4 separate regions of the Homo sapiens genome follow, and regions 2, 3 and 4 are each linked to region 1. Evidence: fine-mapped expression QTL. A gene starts in region 1. Each other region holds a variant in brackets. All regions are shown on one strand. Distances are from middle to middle. Region 1 holds the start of MAP4K3-DT (MAP4K3 divergent transcript). Region 2 overlaps MAP4K3-DT (MAP4K3 divergent transcript). Region 3 overlaps MAP4K3 (mitogen-activated protein kinase kinase kinase kinase 3). Region 4 overlaps MAP4K3-DT (MAP4K3 divergent transcript).

What was found.
Region 2: its variant is fine-mapped to the expression of MAP4K3-DT in lymphoblastoid cells (TwinsUK, PIP 0.95).
Region 3: its variant is fine-mapped to the expression of MAP4K3-DT in whole blood (TOPMed, PIP 0.97).
Region 4: its variant is fine-mapped to the expression of MAP4K3-DT in breast (GTEx, PIP 0.95).

The regions. Positions count from the first base shown.
Region 1 is chr2:39,433,087-39,440,936 of GRCh38, reverse strand. MAP4K3-DT (MAP4K3 divergent transcript) reads right to left here and starts at 3,521. Exons shown (of 6, transcript NR_037875.1): 1 at 3,402-3,521. MAP4K3 (mitogen-activated protein kinase kinase kinase kinase 3) reads left to right here and starts at 3,652. Exons shown (of 34, transcript NM_003618.4): 1 at 3,652-4,045. The coding sequence starts at 3,950. RefSeq lists silencers at 3,399-3,618, 3,689-4,048 and an enhancer at 4,379-4,458.
Region 2 is chr2:39,468,568-39,476,417 of GRCh38, reverse strand. All of the region lies in intron 3 of MAP4K3-DT (MAP4K3 divergent transcript), which reads right to left. Among named protein-coding and RNA genes, the nearest start is that of MAP4K3-DT, 35 kb to the right of the region's middle. RefSeq lists a silencer at 5,509-5,558 and an enhancer at 6,411-6,911. The variant G/AG (reference allele first, on the strand shown) is at 4,049.
Region 3 is chr2:39,362,769-39,370,618 of GRCh38, reverse strand. All of the region lies in intron 2 of MAP4K3 (mitogen-activated protein kinase kinase kinase kinase 3), which reads left to right. Among named protein-coding and RNA genes, the nearest start is that of MAP4K3, 71 kb to the left of the region's middle. RefSeq lists a silencer at 1,161-1,334 and enhancers at 4,788-5,354, 5,355-5,921, 5,922-6,488. The variant G/A (reference allele first, on the strand shown) is at 4,153.
Region 4 is chr2:39,486,959-39,494,808 of GRCh38, reverse strand. All of the region lies in intron 3 of MAP4K3-DT (MAP4K3 divergent transcript), which reads right to left. Among named protein-coding and RNA genes, the nearest start is that of MAP4K3-DT, 53 kb to the right of the region's middle. The variant A/G (reference allele first, on the strand shown) is at 4,178.

The sequences.
Region 1 (7,850 bases):
CTAAGCCAGAAACCCATGGGGGATGGGGCAATAGAAGGATGGCCTGGACATGCTGGCAGGTGGGGACTGCTGCCTATCTTGGCCTTCTTGTGTTCCTTGCTGTGTGATGCTTAAACGGGTAGGTGCTTCAAGGCGCTAAGCAGCCAGCCTGTCATGCACCACTTTCCCTTGTCTGCCTATGCATTTTTCAAGGTTCAGCTTTAGGGTTATTCCTTTTTTTTTTTTTTTTTTTTTTTTTGAGACGGACGCTTCCTCTGTTGCCCAGGCTGGAGTGCAATGGTGCAGTCTCAGCTCACTGCAACCTCCACCTCCCGGCTCAAGTGATTCTCCTGCCTCAGCCTCCCGAGTAGCTGTGATTACAGGGGACGTGCCACCGCGCCCAGCTAATTTTTGTATTTTTAGTAGAGATGGGGTTTCACCATGTTGGCCAGGCTGGTCTTGAACTCCTGACCTCAGGTGATCCACCCGCCTCGGCCTCCCAAAGTGTTGGGATTACAGGCATGAGCCACTGCGCCCAGCCAAGGGGTCATTCCTAAATCTTCCTCCCGTCTGCATTAATGTCCCTTCTCTGTGCTTCTCACACTATTTATGAGACTGTCAACTCCTTGAGGGAAGGCATTGTGGCTTTTCTTTTCTGTATTCAATACCACCAGAATCTAATAATCATTGCCTCTAAATACATTACAGGGAGGTAGAGGTTGGCTTACCATAAGAGAAATTTTTTACAGTATATTGTATATAAGCAGAGTATAGACTAGTGGCTAAGAATCTAGCCTTGGTGTCATACTGCCTTTGTTCAAATTTCAGCCTTCTGTGTTACCTTGAGCAGTTTAATCTGTCTGTGCCTCATAAAATGGAGATAATATTACCTATGTCATTAGGTTGTTGTGCGAATTAAATGAAATAACACATGAAAAATACTTGGCTCCATTCCTGGTATCTTGTAAGCACTTAGCAATGTTAGAAATTACTACTTTTCTCCTAGTTATTATGATCATTTACTAGCACTGTATCACAACGAGGTGGGTTGTTTTGGGAAGCAATGAGTCACCTTTTATTGAAAGTATTCAAGCAGCAGCAAATCCAGCAGAGATGCTGTAGAAGCAGTTCCTGAGTTAAAAAGATTAGATGACTTCTAAGAATGCTTCTAATCATAGAAGAGGGAAGCTCTTTCTCTGATTCTAGGAAAGTGTGATCATTAGTGTTACTTCTAGCAAAACTGAGGATTGTTAGAACAGGGGGAAAAGGCACTGGAATTGGCCACATGCATATATTACAAAAAACAAAATATTTTCTTTGTGAGCAGTTGTTTTACTTATGTTGTAACCCACATGGCAAATCAGGCCCTTACATGGAAATTCATCTCTTCTCAAAAGGACTAGCTTGGCCCTGCCAAAATGGAACAGACAAAACTTTAAAGACTGTTCTAGCCCTACTGAAATGTCTTTTCCTTTTGAAAGCAGTCTATTAGTGATGCAAATGCAAAGTTATTTGGACAGACGATAATCTCAGCAAACAAAACACTGAAGTCATTAGAACTTTCTTGTGCAGCTTTCAGTCCTGAGAATTTGGCTTTCTGGCACTAAAAAGGCAGAGGCCGGGTGCAGTGGCTCATGCCTGTAATCCCACCACTTCAGGAGGCCGAGGCAGGCGGATCATCTGAGGTCGGGAGTTCAAGAGCAGCCTGACCAACAAGGAGAAATCCCATCTCTACTAAAAATACAAAAATTAGCTGGGTGTGGTGTTGCATGCCTGTGATCCCAGCTACTTGGGAGGCTGAGGCAGGAGAATCGCTAAGAACCCGGGAGGCAGAGGTTTCAGTGAGCTGAGATTGCACCCTTGCACTCAAGCCTGGACAACTAGAGCGAAACTCCTTCTCAAAAAAAAAAAAAAAAAAAAGGCAGAGGAAAAGAGCAGACCTGGCTTCCATTTGGGATAATTTGTCAGGTCTGCTTATCTGAATCCTTGGCTAATTATTCTTGCGCTTGGCCTAAACATGCCAAACAATTCTCCAAATGTGGACAAACTGAAGGAAGGCCTGTAATCTGGGTCCTGGGCAAGTACCTTAAACAAGCAAAAGCAAGACCTTTGGCTATGGAATAACATTTATAGTCAGGAGTTTCTCAAGATACCAGAGCCTGAAGGTAGATCCATCGAGAAGATATTCAATGATATGCACTCCTAAGGCAATAATTTAAGTGATACTTTCATATTACTGATGCTTTAAAATTTAATAATTAAAAATTACACAACTGAAAGGCTACTTATATAGGTGAAGAGATAACCATTTTCAAACATCAATTTAGTCAACAGATACTCAAAGTAAACAATTTGAGAATTTAGTACATATGCAATTTTCCTATGAGCAAAAGGATTCAAAAGATTTTTTGAAAAAGTATGAAGCAGTTAACTCTAAGTAGTTTGCTCTACTATTAATTTATTATACTTATCCTTAACAGGTTTGATGAGACCTAGTTTCTCAGGAGCCACGAGGTATTAGGGAATATTAGTGGTTAGAAGGTGTGGTGCCTAAGGGGATTAGGAAAGCATTTCTGAAGCAAAACTCCAACGTGGTATTGCCAAAGTGGCCATCACCTAATTGATTAAAGCTCCTGCAAATGTCTATTGGGAAGTTCAATGAGAACAGAAAAATAACCTTCCATTACCCTCAAGCTTTCTTGGGCAAGTATTAACAATCGGAGCTGGAGTCCACATAGCTCAGATGTAAGACGCGCAATCTGGGTCTTAAGCAGGGTGGGGTTTTTGGGTAGGTAAGGTCACAGCTAAAGAGCTTCCGGATCGTCACGTGTTTATATTTCAGGTGCGGTAATAGATCTAGTCCACTCTCCACCCCTTCTTTACAGGGTTGCTTGACAGCCTGCGCAGTCCCCGCCCGTCTTTGATAATCCAACCCTCTTCGAAGAGGGAGGTCAATCACTGCTTTAGTTCTGCGCTCTGCCTGCCTCCCACGCGGGATGGTGGGCAGCTGTTCCGCGTGTTTTCCTCCCGGAGCTTTCACGCTCTGCCCACTGCACACACCTCCCTCGCGGCCCTCCTGGCCTGCCCTCCTTTGCACCCTGGCAGGCCAACTCCAAGGGTCCGAGTGTCGGTGACAGGGGCAAGCAAGCACAGCTCACTTTTCCTGGGGGTTTTCCTCACGGTGTGTTTAGTGACCCCTCCCCGCAATCCCAGAAAGGCTGCAGCACTCCATGGTATCCTACATGTAGCTGCTTCTAAAATAATAAAGGCTGGGACATTGGCTGTCTTGGATATTACCACTATGCTACCTGCTTGGAACTGGGACCAGATAGACCAAGGTCCAACTTTGTCGTTAGGGGAATCAGAAACGAAAAGAAGCCACTTTCTGCTAGTCCTAACCCCGGTCCCTGGGCCAGGCAAACCTTTTCAAGCGTCCGGCGGCAGCGGCCGGGCGCGGGTCCGCAGAAAAGCCGAGGCGTTTCGGGTCCCAAGCTGTTCCGCCGCCGGCCCCGGCCTGGCAGGCGCGCGGAGCCGGAACGCGCAAGGGGTCGGGTGCGCGCCAGGCCTGGCGCGCTCCCTCCGGGATCGCGGCTGCGCAGTCGGGCGGGAGTCGGGAAAAGGGGAGGAGGTTGGAGGAGCCGGAGTAAGGGGAGGGGGAGGAGCGGCGAAAGCGGAAGCCATGTTGGAGTTTCACCCCGAGCGAGGGGCTGCGAGGGTTCTCCTCTCCTTGTGGGTGTGACCAGGTTCGGCGCGGCGGCGGGCCGCGGGGGGCGGGGACGATTGGCCGCTTGTCGTCGTCCGCAGCGGCGTGAGGGGAGCGGCGGCGGCGGCGGCGGCCGCAGCGTGGAGCCGGGTGATTGTGACCGCCGGGGGAGCCGGGAGCCGGCCGCGGCGCCCTCTCTCCGTGTGGCCCCCTGAGCGGCCCCCCTCCCCTGCCCGGGAGGGAGGCGGGGGGCACCTGGGGCCCGCCATGAACCCCGGCTTCGATTTGTCCCGCCGGAACCCGCAGGAGGACTTCGAGCTGATTCAGCGCATCGGCAGCGGCACCTACGGCGACGTCTACAAGGTAAAGGCAGGGGCCGCGCGCCGCCGAGGCCGTGGGATCCCGACCCGCAGCCAAGCCTGGGCGTCCGAGCCCTTGCCGCCTGTCCTCGGGAGACGCTGGCGCCAGGGAGCAGTCGGGGAGGAGGAGCTGCGGACGCCAAGGGCTCTGCTGCCTTGGTGAACAAAGGGCCGAATGTTTAACCCCGAGACCTCCCCAGCCCTTACCTGAGCCCCCCCGGTGGACATGATTTTTGCCACCTCCCTTCTTGCGCGCATTTCCAGGGAAGGGCAGAACGAGAGCAGGCCACACTGCTCATCCATAGTGCAGAGAAGGTCTGGGCGTTTGTTGCGTTGGCAGGGTCAGCGCGACGAACCGGACAGCAGGGGTCTGGTGTTGTCAAACCTGCCTGCTTCACGCCAACCTGGGGTCGTCCGCTCTAGGTTGGGAGCTGCTGCCCACCAGGCCTCGGTGGTAGTTATTATACTATGCTGAGCGACCTCCATCTTCCATCGACAGCTCTCAGCCTTTAGCGCCTTATTCATCCCCCTGTCAGTTTCTTTTAATTTTCCAGAGTAATGACTTTTTTTTTTTTTTGGAAAGAGCAACTTTGTTTTCTCTAAGTCGAATTGGACTGCGATGCCATTTAAACTTGTTTTTTAAAAAGTGACTTGAATACTTAGGGAAGGTACTGGTTTGACAAGGTTAGAATTCAAAGTCCAGTAGCGGTACAGCATTCCTGTTGTAGAGGGACCACTTCTAAATGTGGGAAGATAAATCACTCTTCCCTGGCCAACTCAACTCTTGGCCTCACAGTTACTGCCAAGAAGAGAGGAGGTTGTTGCCAAATGTGGCAGCAGTCTTGATTTAGTTGTGTATCTTCTTACTGGTAACTGAAGTTGAACTCCTCCAGTTTCACATAACACCTGAGGATGCACAAAGAAACTTAATTTTGCATTGGAAAGTTCAGTCTTAACTTTATTTTGCCCATGTTTAAGCAGGTTTTTACTCTTCAGTGTAATGCCTGTGGTAACTTACATATTTAATACAGTGCAGCCAGTGTTCTGCTTTAGTCTGATTTTCTGGATGATCTACTTTTCACCATCGTGGATCTCATCACTTTTCCTACTATGCAATATAGATATATTGAGCCCACCTACAATGTATGAGATACTTGGCAAGTAAGCACTTTGGGTTGTAGCAGTAAACGATAGACTTGGTTCCAAATCTTCCTAAGTGTTTCTATTTTTTTGGACAAGGACAGTATTAAATAGCCATTTAAATAATTATTGCCGTTTAATTTTGTGATGCAGAAAAGAGTATTAGGATCAGGGTTATGAGAGCATGTAATAGGAGGACCTGATCCTGTTTAGGGTATCAGACGCTCATCGCCTTTCAGCTGAGATCTCAGAGATGATTAGGCGTTGCTTAGGGTACTGGGGAGAGGGGATTACGCCAGATAGGGGAGCATGATATGTGAAGGCTCTGAGGCCCGATGTGAAAGAAGGCCTGTATAGCCTGAGCAGCCAGAGCGGGAGGGTGGCCCTAGATCTTGCAGGCCTCTTAGTTCTCATTAGGAGATCGGACTTGTTTAGGACAATGGGGAACTATTGCAGGCTTTTAAGCAGAGGAGTGACATTAGATTTAGGTTTTTAAAAGAGCTCCCTACTACAGCATGAAGAGTGGAATGGAGCAGTTGGGAGGCCACTGTGATAGTCTAGGTAAGAATAATGGTGTTAAGGAATATGGTGATGACTGTGAAAGTAGAAGTGGATGGATGCAAGTCACTTATGACTGGTTGGGGGAGTTCGCTTATATTGCGATGAAAAGTTAACTAAAACTCGATGAATGTATACGTTTTAGGTGGCAGGGTATACAGTGAATTTTTTTACAGGACTAATTGGCTGTGTACTTGCTATATTAAAAAGAACAGTTAGTAGTTAAGCCACATGATTAAAAAGCAAAAAAAAATTAGGGCCTGTAATTTCCTAAGTGTAATAGAGGTATACTAAGTTGGTTAATCTTGTCATTCGTTTAAAATAATGATAATACTAGCTGATGTTTATGGAATGCTTGTTACTTGCCAGGCACTATAAGATTTTTCTAATTAATCCTAACAGCAACCCTGTGAGATAGGTGCTATTGTTAACTCCATTTTGCAGTTGAATAAACTGAGGCACAAGGAGATTAACTTGCCAAAGTTGGTAGGTGGCAAAGCCAAAATTTGAACCAATTAGGGACTGTATTCTTAACCAATTGGCAGTGCTGCCTCTCTAAAGATAGGAGATGGGCAGATAATGTATTACATTTCCAGTGGAGAAACTGAGGCACACATTTAGTTTAGCATTTGAGTTGTAGCCACACTCTGAGTCAGTGTAGATCTTTAAGTAGTAGTTGGAATACCTAATTCCTGCTGTGCCACAAGGTCTCACTGTTTATGTAGTCTGCCAAGTGGATATCAGATAATAGATGCTTGGTCCCTGCCTGCCAGACTCTTCCAATACCAGTGACCAAAGCAGAGAAACTTCATGTGGTTCTTGACATCATGTACCCCTGCCTGCCAAACTCTTGTTTATGTTTTTGTCTATAATCAAGTTTATTCTATAAAGTTACATTTTTTTGTTATTTGTTTTGCTGTTTTAGTTTTTTCTTATTTATACAAATTAATTGTGCTAGAGAGAAGTACATTTTGTTTTCAAAAGCCAATATATATAATTTGTTCCTTAATTTGTCAGCATTTACGTGCTAAAAATGGAATGATTGGATTAAATAAATAAGAGATCCGATTATAGTCATTCTTGGAAGGTTGGTGGAGATTTTTATTTTGAAAATGTTTTCCTACTCAATGTAATAACATATTTATTGTACTTAAGGTGGCGTGGTTTAGTTCCAAAGCACTGAACAAGGATGTGGACAATCTGGGATTTATTAGCTATGTGACCTTGTGAAATCAACCTCTCAGAGCTGTTTTGTTGTGGAGATATTATTACCATCATATGCCCTTCTTCTTTTGGTATTGACTAAATGACTCAAATTTTACTTAGTAAGTAAGTTATCTTTATTTTTTTCAGGCCAATGCATATATACATTTTATCTGCACTGTCTAAAGTCGTATCTTGTAAGTGTCGTGTAACTCTGCAGGCTTTATCTGTCATGAAGTGCCTGCAGCTTGGGTTACCTAGGGACCTAGGAGCTGGCAACTGAAGCTCTTTAGTTGGGCCTCAGGAGGCCCATGGAGTGCTCTGAAATTAATAGGCTTAATGTTGTATGTATTTGTGTTTTTCTGTGGAGATGGGTTATAGCATTCATTGCATTCTTAAAGAGCTTCATGATCCAAAAAAATGAAAAAATGATCCATAGGTTTGCCATTCAAAAAAGTTTTCTTGGAGAAATTAGGTAGTTATAATAGATCATAATATGATTTTCACATGCATTGTGCCATCTTTTGTCAGGCAGTTTTCCAGTTTAATTTTTATTATTCCTACCCTTTAAGTCTTGATGTCCTTATGTTTTTCTAGATTTTTTGCTAGAAAGAAGCAGGAGATAGTAAAGCTGGAGATGGGATAAGGCAAAAGAAGTTTTGAAAGAATAGTCTCAATATGGTTTCTGAGGAAGTATCTTACCTAGTCTTATGGTTTTAGTCTGGTCCCTGTGAATGATTCCTAGCCTGTGTATCCAAGACTGGATACACAAAGACTCCAGGCTGTAAGCCTTAGAGTCATCTTTAGTGACTTCTGGACTGGGCTTCTTAGGCATTAGCTAAATTCTGTACACAGGCATTTTCCAAAGTGTGGTTGGGGTGCTTCAGGAAAAGCCATACCATGAGTAG
Region 2 (7,850 bases), 35 kb before region 1:
AGGACCACGCCAATCCAAAATGATAGTGATAATAGATTTAATATAAAATGGGAAAAATGTAAGGCATTTTCACACTTAAAAACATCTCCATAGCCCAGAAATGGAACAGAAACAATATGGTAAGTAGCCTGAAGATGTAGACCAGCTCAATTCTGCCAACAGCAAACAGAGGCATCCAGGGGCAAGACTCATACAGGGTACTAAGAACTAAATAACCCATGTGAGGCAGAAGACTCACATGAAATCAAGGGCTGGGATAAGGCTACCCCCTTGAAAGGAATTGCCTAGGGCTACAGGCTTGTAAACATCTGTATACCTAGGGACATGGAAGAACCAGGCATAGTCTTAAAGACGGAATTTGACCCTAGAGAAGGAACTGGATCTACAATACTATAGGATAAAACCGAGGTCTAGGCCTGGGAGGCCCAGAAAGTAGGTAACGGCAAAACTATGAGACCAGGAAGGTTAAGCCTAGGGGGACAGGAAGGAAGGAATGAAGGAAGAGAAGAAGGAACAGAGAAAAGGAGAGAGGGAGAGAAATAAGAAAGACTGCCAAAAATAGAAACCACAACATGGAGAAGCATTCACACCAGGTAAAAACAAAATACTAGAGTATCTGAAAATTACTTCTTTAAAAAGAATTTGTTCAAGACTTTCAAAGGAATTAAGCAGAGGAATAACATTCATAAAAATTATGAAGCACGAACCGTCAGAAATAAAATAGCTATGATTATGAAGAATAACAAATTAAAATCCTGAGAATTAAAAATACAGTCATAGAAAAGTTTTTTTTTGTTTTGAGACAGAGTTTCACTCTTGGTGCCCAGGCTGGAGTGCAATGGCATGATCTTGGCTCACCGCAACCTCCGCCTCATGGATTCAAGAGATTCTCCTGCCTCAGCCTCCCTAGTAGCCGGGATTACAGGCGCCTGCCACCATGGCCAGCTAATTTTTTGTATTTTTAGTAGACACAGGGTTTCACTATGTTGGCCAGGCTGGTTTGGAACTCCTGACCTCAGGTGATCCACTCTCCTCAGCCTCCCAAAGTGCTAGGATTACAGGTGTGAGCTACCATGTCCAGCTCAGTCATAGAAATTTTTAAAAGAAAGAAAGAACAATGAATAGGATAAACTCTGAAATGAACACACTTAGAAAATTGGGAAATAGTACAATATTGCTAAACTGACCCATGACAAAATATTGCACCCGCAGAGTTAAGAGACATATACGGTAGGCAGGGAGACCTCAACATACCACTGCTAAGAGTTTCTGATGAAGAGCAGTTTGGTGATTAATACATTCATTTATTCTTTTTTTTTTTTTTCAGATGGAGTCTCGCTGTGTTGCCCAGGCTGGGGTGCAATGGCGCAATCTTGGCTCACTGCAACCTCCACTTCTTGGGTGCAAGTGATTCTCCTGCCTCAGCTTCCTGAGTAGCTGGGATTATAGACGCGCACCACCATGCCCAGCTAATTTTTGTATTTTTAGTAGAGATGGAGTTTCACCAGCTTTGGCCAAGCTGGTCTCAAACACCTGACCTTGTGATCCACCCATCTTGGCCTCCCAAAGTGCTGGGATTACAGGCATGAGCCACCACGCCTGGCCCATTTATTTAATTCTTAGAATGAAAAAAAATATATTGGCAACAAGTATCCAACTGAAGAAGCTGAAAAGAATGTTAGTGAAAATCCAAATAAAGAGGAAGAAACTAACATGCAGGCACAGAGATTAATAAAACACACACACAGATACACACACACACACACACACACACACACACACACACACACCAGAAGTGAAAAATGAAACAAAAAGCTAGTATAGTCGGCTCTCCATCTGTATCTGCAGTTTCCACATCCACAGATTCAACCAATTGTAGACAGAAAATATTCTGAAAAATAAAAAATAACAATACAACAATAAATATGCAAATAAAAACAATATAGCATAACAACTATTTACATAGCATTTATATCATATTAGGTATTTTATGTAACCTAGAGAAAATTTGAAGCATACAGGAGAATTGTGCAGGCTATATGCAAATAGTATGGCATTTTACATCAAGGACTTGAGCATCCTTGGATTTTGGTATGCAAGTGTGTCCTGGAACCAATCCCCCACAAATACCAAGGGACCACTGTACTTTGAAAAAACTAATTAAATTGACACACTTCTATTAAGGCTGATCAAAAAGACAAGAGAAGGCACAAAAATATTAGGAAAGAAAAGGTAATATAAACAATTCAAGTAAAATTTATAAATACAACTTTTTTTTTTTTTTTTTTTGAGACAGGGTCTCACTCTGTCTTCTAGGTTAGAGTGCAGTGCCATCATCTAGGCTCACTGCAGCCTCAACCTTCCAGGCTCAGGCGATCCTCCTCAGCTCAGCTTCCTGAGTAGCTGGGACTACAGGTATGTGCCAGCACATCCGGCTAATTTTTGTATTTTTTGTAGAGAGGAGGTTTTGCCATGTTGCCCAAGCTGGTCTCAAACTCCTGGGCTCAAGCAATCTACCCACCTCAGCCTCCCAAAGTTCTGGGTTTTACAGGCATGAGCCACCGTGCCTGGCTACAAATACAAGCTTTTTAATTCTTCAGAAAATATTGCTGGGCACGGTGGCTCACACCTGTAATCTCACCACTTTGGGAGGCCGAAGCAGGTAAATCACACGGTCAGGAGTTTGAGACCAGCCAGTTCGAGATCAGCCTGGCCAACATGGTGAAACCTCGTATCTACTAAAAATACAAAAATTAGATGGTTGTGGTGGCAAGCATCTGTAATCCAAGCTACTCAGGAGACTGAGACAGGAGAATTGCTTGAATCTGGGAGGTGGATGTTGCAGTGAGCCGAGATCGCGCCACTGCACTCCAGCCTGGGCGACAGAGCAAGACTCCATCTCGGAAAAAAAGAAAGAAAGAAAGAAAGAAAATGTTATTTTTCAACCTCATGCTAATAAACTTGTATACATGGATTTAGTAGAAATGTTTTTAAACAAATACAAATTATCAAAATAAACTCAAGAAGAAATAGGGAGCCTGAATAGATTTAAAAAAATCAGTAATAGATCAAACAACAATCAATCAAAATTATTACTTATCAATAAATATCAGGCCCAAGTGTTTTTGTTTTTTTTTTCAGATGGAGTTTTACTCTTGTTGCCCAGGCTGGAGTGCAATGGCCCGATCTCGGTTCACTGCAACCTCCACCTGCCAGGTTCAAGCGATTCTCCTGCCTCAGCCTCCCAAGTAGCTGGGATTACAGGCATGCACCACCACTCCTGGCTAATTTTGTATTTTTCGTAGAGACGGGGTTTCTCCATGTTGGTCAGGCTGGTCTCGAACTCCCGACCTCGGGTGATCTGCCTGCGTTGGCCTCCCAAAGTGCTGGGATTATAGGCGTGAGCCACCGAGCCTGGCCTCAAATGTTTTTTTACAAATGAGTTTTATCAAGCTTTCAATTAAGAAATAGTAGCTATCATACAGGAACTACTTTGTAAAATTGGAAAGAAAGGAGGTACTATCCAATTCACTCTATGATTCTAGGGTAGCCCTAACACCCAAAACAAATGGCAGTAAAAATATTACATACCAAACTCACTTATAAACTGAATTGAAAAGATCCTATAGGCTGCTCTGTCTATGGAGTAACCATTCCATTTTATTTTATTTTTTATTTTTATTTTTATTTTTTTGAGACGCAGTCTCACTCTGTCACCAGGCTGGAGTGCAGTGGTGTGATCTCGGCTCACTGCAACCTGTGACTCCCTGGTTCAAGTGATTCTTCTGCCTCAGCCTCCCGAGTAGCTGGGATTACAGGCATGTGCCACCACACCCAGCTAATTTTTGCATTTTTAGTAGAGACAGAGTTTCACAATGTTGGCCAGGATGGTCTCGATCTCCTGACCTCGTGATCCGCCTGCTTCGGCCTCCCAAAGTGTTGGGAAGTGTTGGGATTACAGGTGTGAGCCACCACGCCCGGCTGGAGTAGCCATCCTTTTATTCCTTACTTTCTTAACAAACTGCTTTCACTTAAAAAAAAAAAAAAA[G/AG]AAAGAAAGAAAGAAAGAAAAAAATAAAAGACCCTATATCTCTAATTAGAAACCTTAGGAAAAGATAAATTCTAAATAAAATCCTAGTCAATTAAATTCAAGAATGTATTTTAAAAAATAAAAATACCTCATAACCAAATAGAATTTACCCCAAGAATATAAGAATGTTTTGACATCAGAAAATATCTATATATTTGTTCATAATATTGCCTACATACAGAAAAACACACAAAAAAAACCCTCTATGGAATTTTTTAAAAAAGACATTCTACAAAAGTAAACATTCATTCATGAGTTAGTAAATTTTGTATATATTTTATTAGGATAAATTGTCCTCTGACCATTTCTTCATTCATTCATTCTTTGTTTCCTTCCTCCCATCTACCATTAAAAGCAAGGCTATAATAAGTATTTTCCTACAGTCTCTTTATGCACACATAAAATAACCTCTCTAGAGTGTATACTTAGAAGGAGCATTGCCTAGGGGAAGGATCTGCTCATCCTCAAGTATTTATAAATTGTAAAGGTTTGTACAAATTTACACTGCTACCAGCAGTGTATGGGAGCTTCCCCATATCAATGCCAACATTTTCAATACTTTTTACCCGAAATGAATGGGGATAAAATTTATTTATGAATTCTACCAATATTTATTGAGAACTTAGTATGTGTCAAGAACTGGAAAAGAGTAGTAGGTAATGAGGTGAAAAAGGTCATGGTGTGCAGAGGATGCATGTGGCACCGTTGTCATAACTTTGGCTTGAAGTGACATGAAAAGCTATTGGAGGATTTGATTCAGAGAAATGGCATGATTTGACTGTTTTGTAAGAATCACCCTGGCTGTTGTGTTGAGAACAGACTATAAGGAAGCGATGAAGGAAGCAGGGAGACTAGTTAAGAGGCTATTGCAGTAATTCAGACAAACAGATGATGGGGGGTTGGACCACCATAAAAATACTTCATTTAAAAATTTTGTATTTCCCAGAATTGCAGTGAGACCATGTTTATGACCATGGGTAGAAAAGGCCTCCTGAAACAATACAAAAAATACCAAAGTCATAAAGAAGAGGATTAATAAATTTTACTATATCAAAACTTTACATCTGTTCAACAAAATGAGATTCAAATCCAAAGGAGAGACTGGGTGAAAGTATTGTAATGTATGTAGCAAAGGACTTGCCTTTATATGTCCCCAGAAAAAAGACAAAATTGAAAAATGGGCAAAGAACATAAATAAGCAATTCACAAAGAAGGAACATGAATGGCAAACGAGCATCTGAAAAGATGCTCAGTCTTACTGGTTTTGGGGGGAAACAAAAAGAAGAGGATGCTATTTTTTATACATTGGATTGACAATAAATAAGAAAGACTGATGTGTTGGGAAGCATCTGGAAAAACAGACATTCTCTTACCGTATTCCTGGGAATATAAACTGGCCAACCTTTTTGGAGTACACATTGGCAGCAATCCTTCACACTTTGGATGCGCCTATCATTTGACCCAGCAATCTCACACCTTGGTATCCACTGTAGAGAGATACTTGCATATGTGCAAAAAGGAAGCAGGTACAAGGTTGTTTCACTATAGTACTATTTATAGTGGTAAAAACTGATAGCATAGCAACCTAAATGATCATCGAAAGACTGACACTTAGTGATGCATCTGACTTATGTGAGAGCATGCAGCAGTTGAAAAAAACTAAAATGTACTGACACAGAAAAATCTCTGAGAGATATGGCTAAACTTAAAAAAAAAAAAAAAAGCAAAGTTGAAGAACAATCCACTGTGTGATACCATTTCAGTCAAAACAAAACAAAGCAAAATTCCCTCACTGGCTCTCTCTCTGTCTGTGTATAGATATAGATAGATAGATAGATACATAGATAGATAGATAGATAGATAGATAGATAGATAGATAGATACATATACACACATATGTAGATGCAGATGTATGTACACAGATAGATCAATAAAGATATATAAATAACTAAAAAGATGAAAAGACACACTCCAACTTGAAATCAGTGTTTGCTCTAAGGAAGAACCTGAAATAGGGGTTGAAGGAGTAGGAGGAAGAAAAAGTTTTTATTCATCTTTCTTATGTGATTTTCTTAAAGATTCCTTGAAGCTTCACTATGTGTAGGAAAAGACCTTCCCCTTTCTAAGTTACTGTTCAGTGTCAGGCATCTGGGCCCCTGCACTGCATTCCAGACTAGCTGCATTTCTGGTGAAGCCAGTGATTCATCTGAGCATGCCCTGGGCCAGCCCCAGGTGCAGCTATTCTGTGCTTTATTCTAGGCTCAATATCCACCCAGACTGACCTTGGGCAAATCAGTTTCAGTTCCTTTCTCTTATCTAGCTCAGTTGTGGGGCAGTTACCTCACAATGGGATGAGAACGAGGATGCAAGCAAAGTATTCTATAAGCTGCCTCCTCAATCTTCTCAGTGCCTCTGGTAACCAGCCAAGCCAGTCTTGGCCGTGTGGAGGTGGACACTTCAGGGGAAATGCTTGCTGACTTTGTGCACTATTCGGGCAAAAGGGCAAGCTGGGGATACCATTGCTGGAAAATTTTTAGTGCAACCAAGTGTTCCCTACCCATCTGGCCAGCTAGATACGGTTTTTCTTGCACCCTTTTTCAGTAAATGTAGAGCAGATAAGACAGCCTTTTACCCCACAGATTAAGCCCTGGAGAGATCATCCATAAATTACAAATATAGATTGATTTGGGGTGGGGGTGGGGAGGGAAGGCAGGAGAGGACCTAAATGCCATAAACAAACTCCTAAGGAGAATGCCATGAATAAAAACTTCCTGTACCAGTCAGCAGCATCCTAATGAGAGGGAGTTCACATGTGTACAACAGCTGTGTAAATTATAAAGCTTAAAAGGTAGAACTAACCGCATCATACTACTTCCAAAACACTCGATTCCTTCCTTCTTTCTTCTTTTCTACTCCAAAATAACCTAAAACAATCCTATAACAATTACAAACTGGGGGAAAGGCAAACCATTCTGGGAAAGAAAAAAATAGCAGCTGCTCTAGATATCATTTTCAGATTTTGGCTAGGATTGTTTAAGTTATTTTTTATTTTCTTTTATTCTTGGCTGGCTTGACAGTCCTTCAGGATTTCAGCTGATTCCAAACACAGCTCAGTAAAGATCATTCCAGAGAAGTTTCATATTCCTAAGATTCCTTAAATTTCTCTTTCTTTTAACTTAGGAAATTAGGTTGAAAGAAGATGAAAAACAGCCCAGATTGCACCATTTCCTATGCAAGTTTCTTGCAAAGCAAGCTGTGTCCCCCTTTCCAACAAGAACAGAGAGACATAGTTCTGACTGGGAGGTGGGCGGTGGGTCCTCTGGAGCAGCAGCAGGACTATTTGTCTTTTGAAAATGCCCCAGCAGGCCCAAAGTCTGTCTGAAAACTTTTTGTAAAGGAGGAGGAGAAAAAAAAAATGAAATTCTAGTGAGCTAACCATCTAAAAAAGCCAGTGACTGCACTGTGGACTTCTTTCATGCAAGAAATATTTATTTTGCACCTAGGTGTGCCAGGCTCTGTTCTATATACTGAAGAGGGAGCAATAAAGACAACTAAGTGTCTGATTCCCTCAGAGTTTCTGTGCCTGGGGACTGTTACAGGAAAGCGGTCCTGATCCAGACCCCAAGAGAGGGTTCTTGGATCTTGCGCAAGAGAGAATTCAGGGCAAGTCCACAGTGCAGAGCAAAAGCAAATTTATTAAGAAAGTAGAGGAATAAAAGAATGGCTACTCCATGGACAGAGCAGCCCTGAGGGCCGCTGGTTG
Region 3 (7,850 bases), 70 kb after region 1:
AGCTAAATTTTAAAAGTGCAAAAAAGTACCAATAAGACCTTATTCCACTATTTTTTCATGGACCTCCAAAGTTAAATGTTATGGAATATTCTCTCCTGCCAGCCTTTGACATTAGTTTTTTCTTTCCTGAGAGGTAGTAGAGGTGCTTTCTGCCTCCTTATCTTTCATCATAGAGTGGCGAAACATTGGGGATATGATTTATCTGGTGCCTTTTCCCATCTCCCTTGAGTGTTTTTGTGGATCCCTTGCCACCATGTGCTTATTCAGTGCTGCCTTGTGTTTATCGCCATCATGAATAGAGTAGTTGTTACATCATTCATGATAATTATTCTTCAAAGGTTAATCATGGATAGCTTAGTCACTCTTAAATTTATTAGAATCATACTATGACTTGAGGCTGACTGAGCTGGAGAGATTGAATATTTACACATTGAAAGGTAATAATGCTCCAAAATAAAAAAGCAACTGACAAAGGACTTTTTGTTTTGTTTATCTGCAGTGTATTTCTTATTCTCAGTCCTCTGTTTATGACCAGTGATTTGGCTTCAAGGATGTTTATTTAGTACTTAATTTAGTTAGAAGGAAGATACGGAGATATGGTTCCTGCCTTCCAGTAACTTGTTATCCAATGTGAAAACTAGAATGTTTATGTAAGTAGCAGCCTAACTACGGAGAACCCATTGAGCAGAGTGTGTGTGCATATGTAGGTGGTGGTGCTGGCAGTAAGGAACGGTGATGGCTGTGACTAGAAAGACTTAATTCATGGGTCACTGAAGATCCGCCTTTGACTATTTACTCCGAAATACTCTGGGTTGGGAATATCTAGGTAGGATGCTGTGTGAAAGAATACACATAGTGCAGAGTGGCTGATGTAGCCTAACTTATATTTGGTGGGTTCCATAGAAGCTGTGAGTTCCACTTCCCTTGGGATAAGGAAGTAAAACTTCAGATGAGCCTTCAAGACTGGCTAGGATTTTGCTAGTAGAATAAGAGAATGGAGGGTATTCCACATGAGGATAGTATAAAAGCAAAGGTAGTATGAAAGTACTAGGCCTGTTTGGAAGTAGTAGTTTGATTTGTCTAGAGTAGTATGCTCTATGTGAGCATGGTGGGAAATAAGAAGTGGAAAACTGATGATAGTTTATGGAAAGCCTTAAATACTAGCCCAAAGCAGCCAGGCCCAGTAGCTCACGCCTGTAATCCCAGCACTTTGGGAGGCCGAGGCGGGCAGATCAGCTGAGGTCAGGAGTTCACGATCAGCCTGGCTTGGTGGCTCGCACCTGTATTCCCAGCTACTTGAGAGGCTGAGGCAGGAGAATCACTTGAACCTGGGAGACGGAGGTTGCAGTGAGCCAAGATCACACCACTGCACTCTAGCCTGGGTGACAGAGCAAAACTGCATCTCAAAAAAAACAAAAAAAAAAACTAGCCCAAAGGTTTAGATTTTACCCTGTAAAACAGTGGGATTTCGTTTGTTTTTACAGGTTAGTAACATGGTCAGAGTATAACTGTAGGCAGATTCAGTGTACACAGGCAGATGGGAGAGAAGCCCTGCTGGTGAGAAGACATGTTACTGTTGTGACAGCCATGCTTGAGTTATGTGCAGAGGGAAGGAAGGGGTGACTGCATGAGATTTTAGGGTGGATAGAACTTAAAACGTGATTGATAGGTTACAAGGGATAAGGGAGAGGTACGATATATGTAAAAATTGAGTTTATGGGAAGAATAGGTTTGTTGTTTTGATTTTAGAAACTCATTTTCATGAGTTTTATACAGCTGTGGTTTATGCCTATGTAACCTCAAGAACAGATCAGGAGCTGCTAAAAAAAATTATCTTTAAATCAGATCTGGTGAGAGAACAGAAAGTTGAGAAATTAAAAACGTCCAAAATTAGAACTATTTTATTTAACTTTTTTTCTTTTTTGGGATTTTTTTTTTCTTTTTCTTTTAGAGACAGGATCTCACCCTGTCACCCAGGCTGGAGTATAGTGATGTGATCATAGCTCACTGCAGCCCCAACTCCTGGGCTCAAGCGATCCTCCTGCCTCAGCCTCACTACTGGTTGGTATTAACAGGTGTGCATCACCACACCCAGCTAATTTTTTAGTTTTTTTTGTAGAGACTGGGTCTCGTTGTGTTGCCCAAGCTGGTCTCAAACTCCTGGCCTCAAGTGATTGTCCTGCCTTGGCCTCCCAATGTTCTGAGATTACAAACATGAGCCACTGTGTCCAGCTAAAACTATTTTAAACAATATGTCATTGTTCTTGTTGGTGGGCATGATAAAAACAGAAAATTTTTTGCCCATTGTATTCTTCACTTCCCTTAAAATCTACACCGTGCTCTATTTTTCCTTTTTCTGTCCTTACTCCAGAAACATTTTTTGAGTCTACTATAATACTTACTTTACATATAGAAACTGTAGGGTTGCTGCCATAATTTTTAGTAGGCAGGGGGCGCGATATACTCCAGAGGATTTTCACTAGAAATTCAGTCCTGAGTTACGGGTACCTTCCTTATTTTGGGCCTTCCATCAGAACCACTCGGGTAAACCTGGCTCTCAAAAGAGCTGGATCCAGGTAAGAAAAGGAGACCAAACAGGTTTATAGGTCAGGAAGCTCAAGTTAAGCCCTCCTTCCCTGACTACCTGGACACAATCCATTTGCACTAGAGAATGTTTTCTCAAATATTCCTTTAAAATAAGAAAGGAGTGGAACTGGTTCTTTGGGATGAAAAAAATCTTAATTCTTTTTATGTACAAAGCACAGATATATGTATGTATATATGCATAATACATAAACATGCAGAATATCTGTGGTATTAAAATTTCTTGGGGAGAGGCATTAGGAAAACAGAGTTGGGAAACACAGCATTAGGGTAGACATTTTTTCTTTTTATCTTAAAGTTGAGGTCTCACTATGTTGCCCAGGTTGGATCAAACTCTCACCTCAGTCCCCCAAATATCTGGGACTACAGGCTTCCAACACCATGCCCAGCTCTAGAGTAAGACTTTTTTTTTAGGGAGCCAGGGCCATGGTTTCTTTCTTTTCTTTTTCCTTTTCCTTTTCTTTTTTTGTTTTTTTAGATAGAGTCTCATACTGTCACCCAGGCTGGAGTGCAGTGGCACAGTGACAGCTCACTGCAGCCTCAACCACCCAGGCTCAGTCAGTCCTCCCATTTAAGCCTCCCAAGTAGCTGCGACTACAGGCTCACACCACCATACCCAGCTTATTTTTAATTTTTCTACAGATGAGGTCTCACCATGTTGCCCAGGCTAGTCTGAAACTCCTGGGCTGAAGCAGTCCACCTGCCTCAGCTTCCTAAAGTTCTGGGACTACAGGTGTGAGCCACTGTGCCTGGCTTCTTTTTTTGTTTAGATAGTTTGAGCAAGGGAATTTCTACTTGGCTTTGTGGAACCCAAGTTCAAAGGCCATTCAGTAACAATGTATGTAAATGTAAGTGATACTTATCTTAAACATTAATCAAGAACACTTACTAAAATACAGCCAAACAAATAAATAGACTCTAAGTTATTTTTATCAGGTGAAGTATTTGAAGGGTTGTTTTCTTCATTCTCATTTCTGAAAAAAATACAAATATTGCTGTTTTAATCATTTTTTCATTTGTTTTGAAATAAGTAGGAATCAATAGGATTATTAGATACTTCCTTTGTATTTCTGTGTTATTGATCAGGGCTTTAATATTTCTTCAAAAATTCAAAGTTGGGTGCTGCTTCTGTGGTTTTAGAAAAGTTTTTTCTAATTTTATGTTGTAATTACTTAAGCCAATTTCTTATCTTTTTAAAGATTAGCCAGTGGGTTTCAAGATACCCTGATAATTTAATATAGTGTTTCAGAGTATTTCCTGGTACTCCAGTAGTTTGACACAGTAATTGACAACTTAAGAGAAGTTGGAATGTTAGCCATAGATTACTGTGTAAACCAAAAAATAAAGTTCCAAGGCCTCCCAACCATCTAAACGAACCCCTCCACTGGGCCAAAGGCATTCCGAAGTTACCCTGAAAAATTCAGGCCATGATGGAAGCAGAGGTGGAACTACGCCCTCTTCCCTTTCTGAATTCAGGGAAAGCTGACTGGTATTAACATCAGTACAGATCTTACATCTCAAGAGAAACATTTCTTCGTCTGAAATTTC[G/A]TCTGAAACATTTACGTCTGAAGAGACGCCTACTACCTGGAGGTTTCATCTGCATGATAAAACCTTGGTCTCCGCAACCCCTTATCAGAACCCAGACATTCCTTTCTATTGATGATAACTCTAAACCAATTGCCAATCAGAAAATTTTTAAAATCTCCCTCTAACCTGGAAGCCACCACCTCCACCCCCACCCCACCACCCTGCTTCAAGCTGTCCCACCCTTCTAGATCAAACCAATGTAAATCTTAAATGTATTTGATTGATGCCTCAGGTCTTCCTAAAATGTATAAAACTAGGCTGTACCCTGACCACCTTGGGCATATGTTCTCAGGTCTCCTGAGGACTCTTTCATGGGCCATTGGTCACTCATATTTGGCTCAGAATAAATCTCTTCAAATATTTTACAGAGTTTGACTCCTTTCACGAACAACTGAAGTACTGTTAATTTCATTTATTGTTTCTACCATATGAAATGGAGTTTAGAAATTATGTATTTTGAATGACACCACACATGAAATTAAAAGTTAATTTGAAATTGACTTTAAAACACTTTTACATGTAACGTAGATGTGTGTTCTCACTTCTCTGTGTTTAAAATAGAATGGAAATGGGAAGATTTGAGAGTGAAATACCCATAACAATGGCATGAGAAACCTTGTTGATTTTTCGTAGTCTAAGCTTACATTTTTCTCTTGGCTATAGGACATTTTAAAAATTACTATGGGCCGGGCGCGGTGGCTCACGCCTGTAATCCCAGCACTTTGGGAGGCCGAGGCGGGTGGATCATGAGGTCAGGAGATCGAGACCATCCTGGCTAACAAGGTGAAACCCCGTCTCTACTAAAAATACAAAAAATTAGCCGGGCGCGGTGGCGGGCGCCTGTAGTCCCAGCTACTCGGGAGGCTGAGGCAGGAGAATGGCGTGAACCCGGGAAGCGGAGCTTGCAGTGAGCCGAGATTGCGCCACTGCAGTCCGCAGTCCGGCCTGGGCGACAGAGCGAGACTCCGTCTCAAAAAAAAAAAAAAAAAAAAAAAAATTACTATGGCGTAACCCAAAAATAAAATTCTAAGCCCCCCAACCGACTGATGGAGGCTCTCCTCAGCCAAGGGCATTCCAAAGTTAACCTGAAAAACTAGTTCAGGCCATGATGTTACCATCATAATGAGACTCCGACATCCTCATTATACCCTCCTCCCTTTGGAATTCAAGCTCAGCTGACCAACATTAACATTTAAATAGAGATCTTAAGACTAGTGAACAGACTTTTTATAGCAATAAGACACAGAATTCCAGCCTGACTCTAGTATAGCATCACATGACAGATAGCAGGCCCTGAAAGAAATAGAAGTATTTTATCCCAAGTATATTTCTTTGATATATTTTGAAATGGTCCTGCAAAGCCGTCTCTTGTGGGGGAAATCTGTATTCTATAGAGGATTCATTTTTCCTTTCCAGGTCTTTTTCCTGATCCAGGAGAGAATTAACTGAGTCTGGCACTTCATAGGTCTGACAAAAGCTCTGAAGTCTGCTACCTGGAGGCTTCATCTGCATGATAAAACCTTGGTCTCTGCTACCCATTATCTTTTTTTTTTTTTTTTTTTGAGACAGAGTTTCTCTCTGTTGCCCAGGCTGGTGCAGGGGCACCATCCTGGCTCACTGCAAGCTCTGCCTCCTGGGTTTATGCAATTCTCCTGCTTCAGCCTCCCAAGTAGCTGGGATTATAGGCATATGCCATCACGCCTGGCTAATTTTTGTATTTTTAGTAAAGATGGGGTTTCACCATGTTGGCCAGGCTGGTCTCGTACTCCTGGCCTCAGGTGATCCACCCACCTTGGACTTCCAAAGTGCTGGCATTACAGGCGTAAGCCACCGCACCTGGCCCACCTTACACGTTTTGATTGATGTCTTATGTCTCCTTAAAATGTGTAAAACCAACCACTTTGGGCACATGTTCTCAGGATCTCTTGGAGCTGTATTACAGACCACTGGTCATTCATATTTGGCTCAAAATAAATCTCTTCAAATATTTTAGAGTTTGTCTCTTTTTATCAATGGTGGTAAAAACACGTCACATGATACCTATTCTCTTAACAAATTTAAATATTTAGTACAGTATTGTTAACTATAACCATTATGTTATACATTATGCTCTAGAATATTTTCATCTTGTGTGACTGAAATTCTTTACACATTGAACAGCAACTCCTAATTCTTACTTCCCCCAGTCTCTGGCCATGACCATTCTGCTTCCTGGAGTGCAAATGTCTCTTTGAGATTCTAATTTCAGTTCTTTGGGGTATATACCCACAAGTGAGATTGCTGGATCATATTGCATTTCTATTTTTAATATTTAGAGGAACTTCTGTACTGTTTTCCATAGTGGCTACACCATTTTACATTCCCATCAACAGTGGACGGGGGTATTCATATCCTGGACAACACTTGCTATTGTCTTCTTTTTTTTTTTTTTTTTTATAATGGCTATCTGAACAGGTGAGAAGTGACATTATGTTTTTGATTTGCATTTCCCTGAAGACAGTAATGTTGGGCATCTTTTGATATAGATCTGTTGGCCATTTGTATATCTTTTTTTGAGAAATTTCTGTTCAAGTCCTTTGCTCTTAAAAAAAAAATCCCCAGTATGATTACTGTATAAATGACAAAAATTGTATACTGTTTGTTTACAGTTTACAACATGGTATTCTGATGCATATGTATGTTGTGAAATGATCAAATCAAGCTATTTCATATATCCATCACCCATTCAACCATAGCTCTTTTTTTTTTTTTTTTTTTTTGAGACAGAGTCTCACTCTATTGCCCAAGCTAGAGTGCAGTGGCACAGTCTTGGCTCACTGCAACCTCCACCTCCTGGGTTCAAGCAATTCTCCCACCTCAGTCTCCAAAGTACCTGGGATTACAGACACCTGCCACTATGCCCAGCTAATTTTTTGTATTTTTAGTGGAGTCTGGGCTTTGCCATGTTGGCCAGGCTGGTCTCAAACTCCTGACCTCAGGTGATCCACCCACCTCGGCCTCCAAAAGTGCTGGGATAACAGGCATGAGCCACTGCGCCGAGCCCTTTGCTCGTTTTTGAATCCAGTTATTTGGTGGGTTTTGTTTTGCTGTTGCATTGTAGGAGTGCCTAGTAACCCCTCATCAGATATATGGTTTGCAAATATTTTCTTACATTCCATAGGTAGTCTTTTAATTCTGTTTCTTGTGCTGTGCGGAAGCTTTTTAGTGGTGGAATTTCAGTTGTCTGTTTTTGCTTTTGTTGCCTGTGCTTTTAATGTCATATCCAAGTAATAATTGCCAAGACTAATATTATGAATGTTTTGGCCTGTGTTTTTCTATAAGAGTTTTATGGTTTCAGGCCTTGCATTTAAGTATTTAATTAATATTCAAGTATTTAATAAATTAAAGCTGAATTTTTTGTGTATGTAGGATAACGTCCAATGTCATTCTTTTGCATGCTGCCATCCAGTTTTTCCCAGCACCTTTGTTGAATACTGTTTTATCCCATTGCATAGTCTTGGCATCCTTGTGAAAGAGGATTTGACCTTATATGCATGTGTTTATTTTGGGTTTTCTTTTCTCTATTCCGTTGGTCTATATGTCTGTCTTTATGCCAGTGCCATATTGTTTGATTGCTGTAGCTTTGTAATATGTTTTGAAACCAGGAGTGTGAGACCTCC
Region 4 (7,850 bases), 54 kb before region 1:
TTTGTGGGGGTTTTTTGTTTTTTGTTTTTTTTTTTTTTTTTGAGATAGACTATCACTCTGTCACCCAGGCTGGAGTGCAGTGGCACGATCTCAGCTCACTGCAACCTCCACCTCCGGGATTCAGGTGATTCTCGTGCCTCAGCCTCCCAAGTAGCTGGGATTACAGGAGCACACCACCATGACTGGCTAATATTTGCATTTTTAATAGAAACAGGGTTTTGCCATATTGGCCAGGCTGGTCTCAAACTCCTGACCTCAAGTGATCCTCCTGCCTTGGCCTTGCAAAGTGCTGTGATTACAGGCGTGAGCCACTGCACCTGGCAAAGAGCACAGGTTTTGAAGTCAAACAGACCTATCTTCAAAGTATGTTTCTGTCCTGTGCCACATCTAAACCTTAATTCCCTAAGCTGTAAAAGATGATCAAATAGGCCAGGCACGGTGGCTCACACCTGTAATCCCAGCACTGTGGGAGGCCGAGGCGGGCAGATCACCTGAGGTCAGGAGTTCCAGACCAGCCTGGCCAACATGATGAAACCCCATCTCTATTAAAAATAAGAAAATTAGCCGGGCATGGTGACATATGCCTATAATCCCAGTTACTCCAGAGGTTGAGGCAGGAGAATCACTTGAACCCAAGAAGCGGAGGTTGCAGTGAGCCGAGATCATGCCACTGCACTTCAGCCTGGGTGACAAGACTGTCTGAAAAAAAAAAGGAAAATCAGGATTTCTAAGAGATATCTCTACTCTTACGTTCATTGCAGCATTATTCATGATAGCCAAGATATGAAAACAACCTAAATGTCCATCAACAGATGAATGGATGAAGAAAATATGGTATACATATACAACAGAATATTATGCAGCCTTCAAAACAAAAGGAAATCCTGTCATTTACAACATGAATGAACCTGAAGAACATTAAGCTAAGTAAACTAAGCGAGACACAGAAAAACAAATACTGTGTTGATTTCACTTATATGTAAAAACTAAAGTAGTCAAACTTAGAACAGCAGAGAGTGGAATGTTGGTTGCCATGAGCTGGAGGGATAGAGGAATGGGGAGATATTGGAAAAGGGTTACAGAGTTTCAGTTATCCAAATGAATGAATTCTGGAGATGTATTCTACAACGATGTGACTACAATTAGCAACACTATATTATATACTTGAAATTTGCTAAGAGGGTGGATCTTAAGTGTTCTCACCACCAAAAAATAAAAAAGAAGGGAAAGAAAGGAAGGAAGAAAGAGAGAGAGAACAAAAGAAAATGGTAACTATGTGAGGTGATGGATATGTATATGATATATATGCATATTATATATATATGATTTGATATGGATATATGCATATATATGCATAATTGAAATATGTACATATTTAAAGTGTACGACATGATTTGATATGCATATATATGCATATATATCCATATATATGCATGGATATGGATATGGATATATATGCATGGATATATATGCATATCAAATCATCATGTTGTACACTTTAAATATGTACAATTTTCAATTGTCAATTATATCTCAATATGGGAAAAAGTCTTGTCATGAAGGAGATGCTTAATAAATAGTAGTTAATGTTATTATCTTTGATTGATTTGTCTTTGAATAAATTTCTGTGGCCTAAATGAGGAAGCATATTCAAGGCATATATCCAAATATTTGTAAGAGTAGAGGAATGTTCTTAATCCAAATTATATGCACCAGTATTGCTCACTTGAGTGGAAGGAAATTATAGAATGGAGTATTAACTTCCTAATGACTAGACAAAATTAGTTGAGTAAATTACCCAATCAGTTCAGGAGAAGAAAATAAAAACCTGATTCAAAGGGTTTTTTTCCCCTCTGTGGGTTCATTTTATTGCTGCAACCCTCTAATTTGTTTTAGTTATAAAGACATGGCCATTTCATTTTCAGTTTCACCCAGGAACTAGAACTATATTTTGAAATAGGGACAACTGGATTTAGAAAATCACTTTTGTACAACTAGAACTCATTTACAGCTAGTTATTCAAATATCCAGTGACAGCATAATAAAAATTTAGGGCCTTCTTTTAATTAAACACTCCAGTTTACAATTCCCTGGAAGTAGTAACACATATTTGGAAACTGCTCTCTTTCGTGTTTTTAAAATAGCATCTAACATTAAGACAGTAATTTATTAAGAAATAACTTGCTGATCTGAAAGTGTTGATGTGATTTCAAAATGTCTTTAGAATGCATCCAACTCGATGAGACTTATATGCATGGATTTGGAGAACAAGGAGCTTATCATAGGACTTTCATAGCCCTCTCAAAATGGCAAATGAAGATAAACTGCAGAAATAGGGACTGCATGTTGCAATCAAAAGGGAACCTGCCCACAGACTGAAACAAACTTGGAAAACAAATGAACGGAAGATTAAACAGTGAAGTCTAAGTACTATCACTTCTTCCCCTATGATTAAAGCCTGACAGGCACCATGAGTCAAACTGTAAATATATACTAGTTATCATAGACCTCACTGGGTTTATGCGTCAGTAAACCACAGCTGCCTCTAATTTACCATTGAAACATGTTTTAGGGAAATGAAACTAGCCACCACCTCCTTTCATGCATGTGATATACTATTCATAACCAAGCCCTAATGACAGAAGAGAGCATTCTTAAAATAGTCTAATGGCTTTTTTGTATTCAACAATACAATCCCCCTATATTTTTTATACCTAACTCACCACATATTCAAGAATTTTCCATCATGTGCTTAACTTTAAATTTTTAAATGGTTTTCTTCACCTGAGCTGGCAGCTTTACTATTGCACTAGTCCAAACATATAGATGGGAGCGTCCTTAAATATGCAGCAAGACACACGTGATATAAATAGGAGGAATCATAGTATAGGACCACCTAATAATAATAAAGCCAATGTTTACTTAGTGCTTACTATTTACCTAACATTGTGCTAAGCACTTTTGAAGAATTATTTTGTTTAATCAGCAATTCCAACAAGACAAAATTCCAGTGTCCCAGATGATAAGACTAGCGAAACTTAAAAATCCTAATGTTAAAAAATTAAACCGCTAAGTGAAAATTAGTTTTTCATGGGTGATTTCTTGGCAATTTATAAAATTTAAGTTTTCCTAAAATTAACTGTAAACTGATACATATTAATCATACATAGCAAATGTCTACAGTCAAATTTTAAGCTATTTCTCTGCTTTATTAGCCATTTATATCAGCTTTTATACGAAACTTCCTTTTCATAGGTGCAATTGAAGACAAAGGATCAAAGCTTTTTCACTGGGCACGGTGGCTCATGCCTGTAATCCCAGCACTTTGGGAGGCCGAGGCGGGCAGATCACGAGGTCAGGAGATCGAGGCCATCCTGGCTAACATGGTGAAACCCTGTCTCTACTAAAAATACAAAAAATTAGCCAGGCGTGGTGGTGCACACCTGTAGTCCCAGCCACTCAGGAGGCTGAGGCAGGAGAATGGCGTGAACCCAGGAGGCAGAGGTTGCAGTAAGCCAAGATCACTGAACTCCAGCCTGGAGGACAGAGCATGAGACTGTCTCAAAAAAAGAAAAAAAAAAAGTTTTTTGTACTTTAAGCTAACTTTCATGAAACTATCCTATCATCAGAAACCCACTGCCAGTGGGCACAGTGGCTCACGCCTGTAATCCCAGCACTTTGGGAGGCTGAGGCAGGTAGTTCACTTGAGGTCAGGAGTTCAAGACTAGCCTGGCCAACATGGTGAAACCCCATCTCTACCAAAAATAAAAAAATTAGCCAGACGTGGTGGTGCGTGCCTGCAATCCCAGCTACTCGGGAGGCTGAGGCAGGAGAATCACTTGAACCTGGGTGGCAGAGGTTGCGGTGAGCTGAGATTGTGCCACTGCACTCCAGCCTGGATGACAGAGTAAGACTCCATCTCGAAAAGAAAAAAAGAAACCCCACTGCCACCTCTGAAAGATCTTCGGTGATTTGGGCCATTCATTCATTCCTCAGACTTAACCACCAACTGCACACCACACCCTGGGGATACGAATAAGACATGAACTCCACCTTCAAAACACATTCAGCCTGCTGAGAGAGATATAAACAAACCACAGCAAATATAATGCACAATATCATATAACAGAGGTAGAGAGAATGGAGGTCAAAAGGAGAAAGTAATTGAAAAAAAGGC[A/G]ATTTTTGGAAGGCTTCACAGAAGCAGTGACACTAAAGGTAGCATCTTTTTTTTTTTTTTTTTTTTTTTTTGTGAGGCAGCGTTTCACTCTCTTGCCCAGGCTGGAGTGCAGTGACCCAATCTCAGCTCACTGCAACCTCCGCCTCCCAGGTTCAAACAATTCTCCTGTCTCAGCCTCCTAAGTAGCTGGGACTACAGGTGCACGCCACCATGCCAGCTAATTTTTGTATTTTTAGTAGAGATAGGGTTTTACCATATTGGTCAAGCTGGTCTCGAATTCCTGATCTCAGGTGATCCACCCACCTTGGCCTCCCAAAGTGCTGGGATTACAGGCATGAGCCACCTCGCCCAGCCTAAAGCTAGCATCTTAAATGTAGATGAAAATCTGTGATGTTCAGTATGTTCACTCTACTTTTTTTTTCAAAAGATGAATTACCTTTTCATTAATGTTTCCCTTTTTTTTTTTTTTTTGAGCTGGAGTCTTGCTCTGTTGCCCAAGCTGGCGTACAATGGCGTGATCTCAGCTCACCGCAACCTCCGCCTCCCATGTTCACGTGATTCTCCTGCCTCAGTCTCCCAAGTGGCTGGGATTACAGGTGTGCACCACCACACCCAGCTAATTTTTGTACCTTTAGTAGAGACAGGGTTTCACCATGTTGGTCAGGCTGGTCTCAAACTCTTGACCTCAAGTGATCCTCCTGCCTCAGCCTCCCAAAGTGCTGGGATTACAGACATGAGCCACCATGCCCAGCCAAAAGATGAACTACCTTTTTAAAAAAGCATAGGATTGTCGCCAGGCGGAGTGGCTCATGCCTGTAATACCAGCATTTTGCGAGGCTGAGGCGGACGGATGACAAGGTCAGGACATTGAAACCATCCTGGCTAACACCGTGAAACCCTGCCTCTAGTAAAAATACAAAAAATTAGCCGGGCATGTGGCGGGCGCCTACAGTCCCAGCTATTCGGGAGGCTGAGGCAGGAGAATGGTGTGAACCCCGGAGGCAGAGCTTGCAGTGAGCCGAGATGGCGCCACTGCACTCCAGCCTTGGCGACAGTGCGAGACTCCGTCTCAAAAAGAAAAAAAAAGGCATAGGATTATGTATCTAATTTACCTACTATTCCATTACTATTTTACATCCTATTTCTGAATTTCTGTGTCTTCCGCCACTTATCTTGACTTAATTTTTTTCTTTTAAGTAACTAGTCATATTGTTGCACTATCCACATAAAAATTACTTCCAAAGACTTGTGATAGAACCCAGTGATGTCACACCTAGATATATAACTCTCACAAGGAGACACATACAAAAACATTTATCATGCATTGTTTGTAAGGGAAAAATAATGGAAACAATTTAAAGATCTATCAACAAAAGAATGAATAAACTGTGGTCTTTTTATACAATGAAATACTATCTAGCACTTTAAATAAACTAGAAGATGTGTATTGGCCTGACGCAGTGGCTCACACCTGTAATCCCAGCACTTTGGGAGGCTGAGGAGGGCGGATCACTTGAGACCAGAAGTTCAAGACCAGCCTGGCCAACATGGCAAAACCCATCTTTACTAAAAATACAAAAATTAGCAGAGCGTGGTGGCAAGCGCCTGTAATCCAGCTACTCGGGAGGCTGAGGCAGGAGAATCGCTTCAACCTGGGAGGCAGAGGCTGCAGTGAGCCAAGATCGTGCCACTGCACTCCAGCCTGAGAGACAGAGTGAGAATCCATCTCAAAAAAAAAAGAAAAAAAAAAAAAAGATGTGTATTAGGGGCCAACCATGGTGGCTCACACCTGAAATCCCAGCACTTTGGGAGGCTGAGACAGGTGGCTCACTTGAGCTAAGGAGGTCATGACTAGTCTGGGCAACATGTGAAACCCTGTTTCTACAAAAAATACAAAAATTAGCTAGGCATGGCGGCGTGTGCCCGTAGGCCCAGCTACTTGCAGGGCTGAGGCAGGAAGATTGCTTCAGCCCAGGAGGTCAAGGCTTCAGTGAGTCATGATCACACCATTGCACTCCAGCCTGGTGAACAGAGTGAGACTGTTTAGAAAAAAAAAAAAAAGATGAGTATTAATACATGTTGAGTGAGAGATTAAGAAGAAAGCGCATAATATATCATTTAATGATGAAAAACTTGCAAATCAACTTTATGTCTTATGGATACATATATAGTATAAATATAAAAAATAGCTGGGTGTGGTGGTGTGTGCCTATAGACCCAGCTACTTGGGAGGCTGAGGCGGGAGGATTGCTTGAGCCCACTAGTTCTGGGCATCATATAGTGACCTCCCAGGAGCAGAGGGCTACCTGGTTGCCTAAGGAAAGGTGAACCCACCTGTGTGGGAAGCAGAGCAGGTCAAAACTCCTGTGCTGATCATAGTGGATTGCACCTGTGAATAGGCACTGCCCTTCACCCTGGGCAACACAGGAAGACTCCAGCTCTTATTAAAAAAAATTTTAAATAATATAAAAATACACAGAGGAATTAAAACTCTAAATTCAGGGTAGTTGTCACCCTGCAGATCACAAGAGAGGAATGAGATAGATTGGTTTCAGGGGTTTTAACTACATCTATATGATTTTAACTTTGTCAGCACTTCTGGTGGCTTGTTGAGGAAAAAAAGGTTTTAACTTGGAAGAAACAGAGGAAAGGGGAAAAAAGGGAGGGAGGAAGAGGGCAAAAGGGGGAGGGAGGGAAAAAGGGAGATCTGAAGCAAATATGGCAAAATTTTATTACATGAAATACTATCTAGCACTTAGGGCTGGATTGTAGATAGATGATTTTTTGTCATATTATTTTGTATGCTTTTCTGTCTGTTTGAAATATTCTATTGTAAATAGATGTGCTAATCTTTATAATAATAATTCATGGTATTATTCACCAAATTTAACAGCCTAACAAAAGTTTAGAAGTAAAAAATTAGCAAGTGGCACATATTTTCCAGTTCTACTAGTAAAGAAACTTGTTTGCATCTGGGGAAGATAATATTTGCGGTGTAACTTCCCCACTCCCTTTCCAGCACATCCTTAAAGGACTCAAATGGAATGTCGTCCTATGACAAAGAAAAGTGCTTGTGCATATTAACTCCTCTGCTGCTGAACCAATTTGTGACAGGATGAAAGCGCTACTAGGAAACAAAGTGAAGAAGGATGGACACTCTATTCAGTATTTATAAATTTCTAGGTTTTTCCTTTTCAAGCCCCCTTAGAATCTTTACGAAAAAGGTCAACAGTTTAGCATGCCTCCAAATGAAAAATGTTATGTTAATGTATTTGCTAATAAATAATTCATTTCAGAGGCAAAATTAAAGGCTCAAGTTGGTAAATAAAGCATCCAGCACTATATCCATACGTGGTCTCTGACATCAAAATAGGATGAAGGGCCGGGCATGGTGGCTTACTCCTGTAATCCCAGCACTTTGGGAGGCCGAGGCAGGTGGATCACTTGAGGTCAGGAGTTCGAGACCAACCTGGCCAACATGGTGAAACCCCATCTCTACTAAAAATACAAAAATTAGCTGGGCGTGGTGGTGTGTGCCTGTAATCTCAGCTACTCAGGAGGCGGAGGCAGGAGAATCACTTGAACCCGGTAGGCGGAGGTTGCAGTGAGCTGAGACTGTGCCACTGCACTCCAGCCTGGGCAACAAAGTGAGACTCCATCAAAGAAAGAAAGA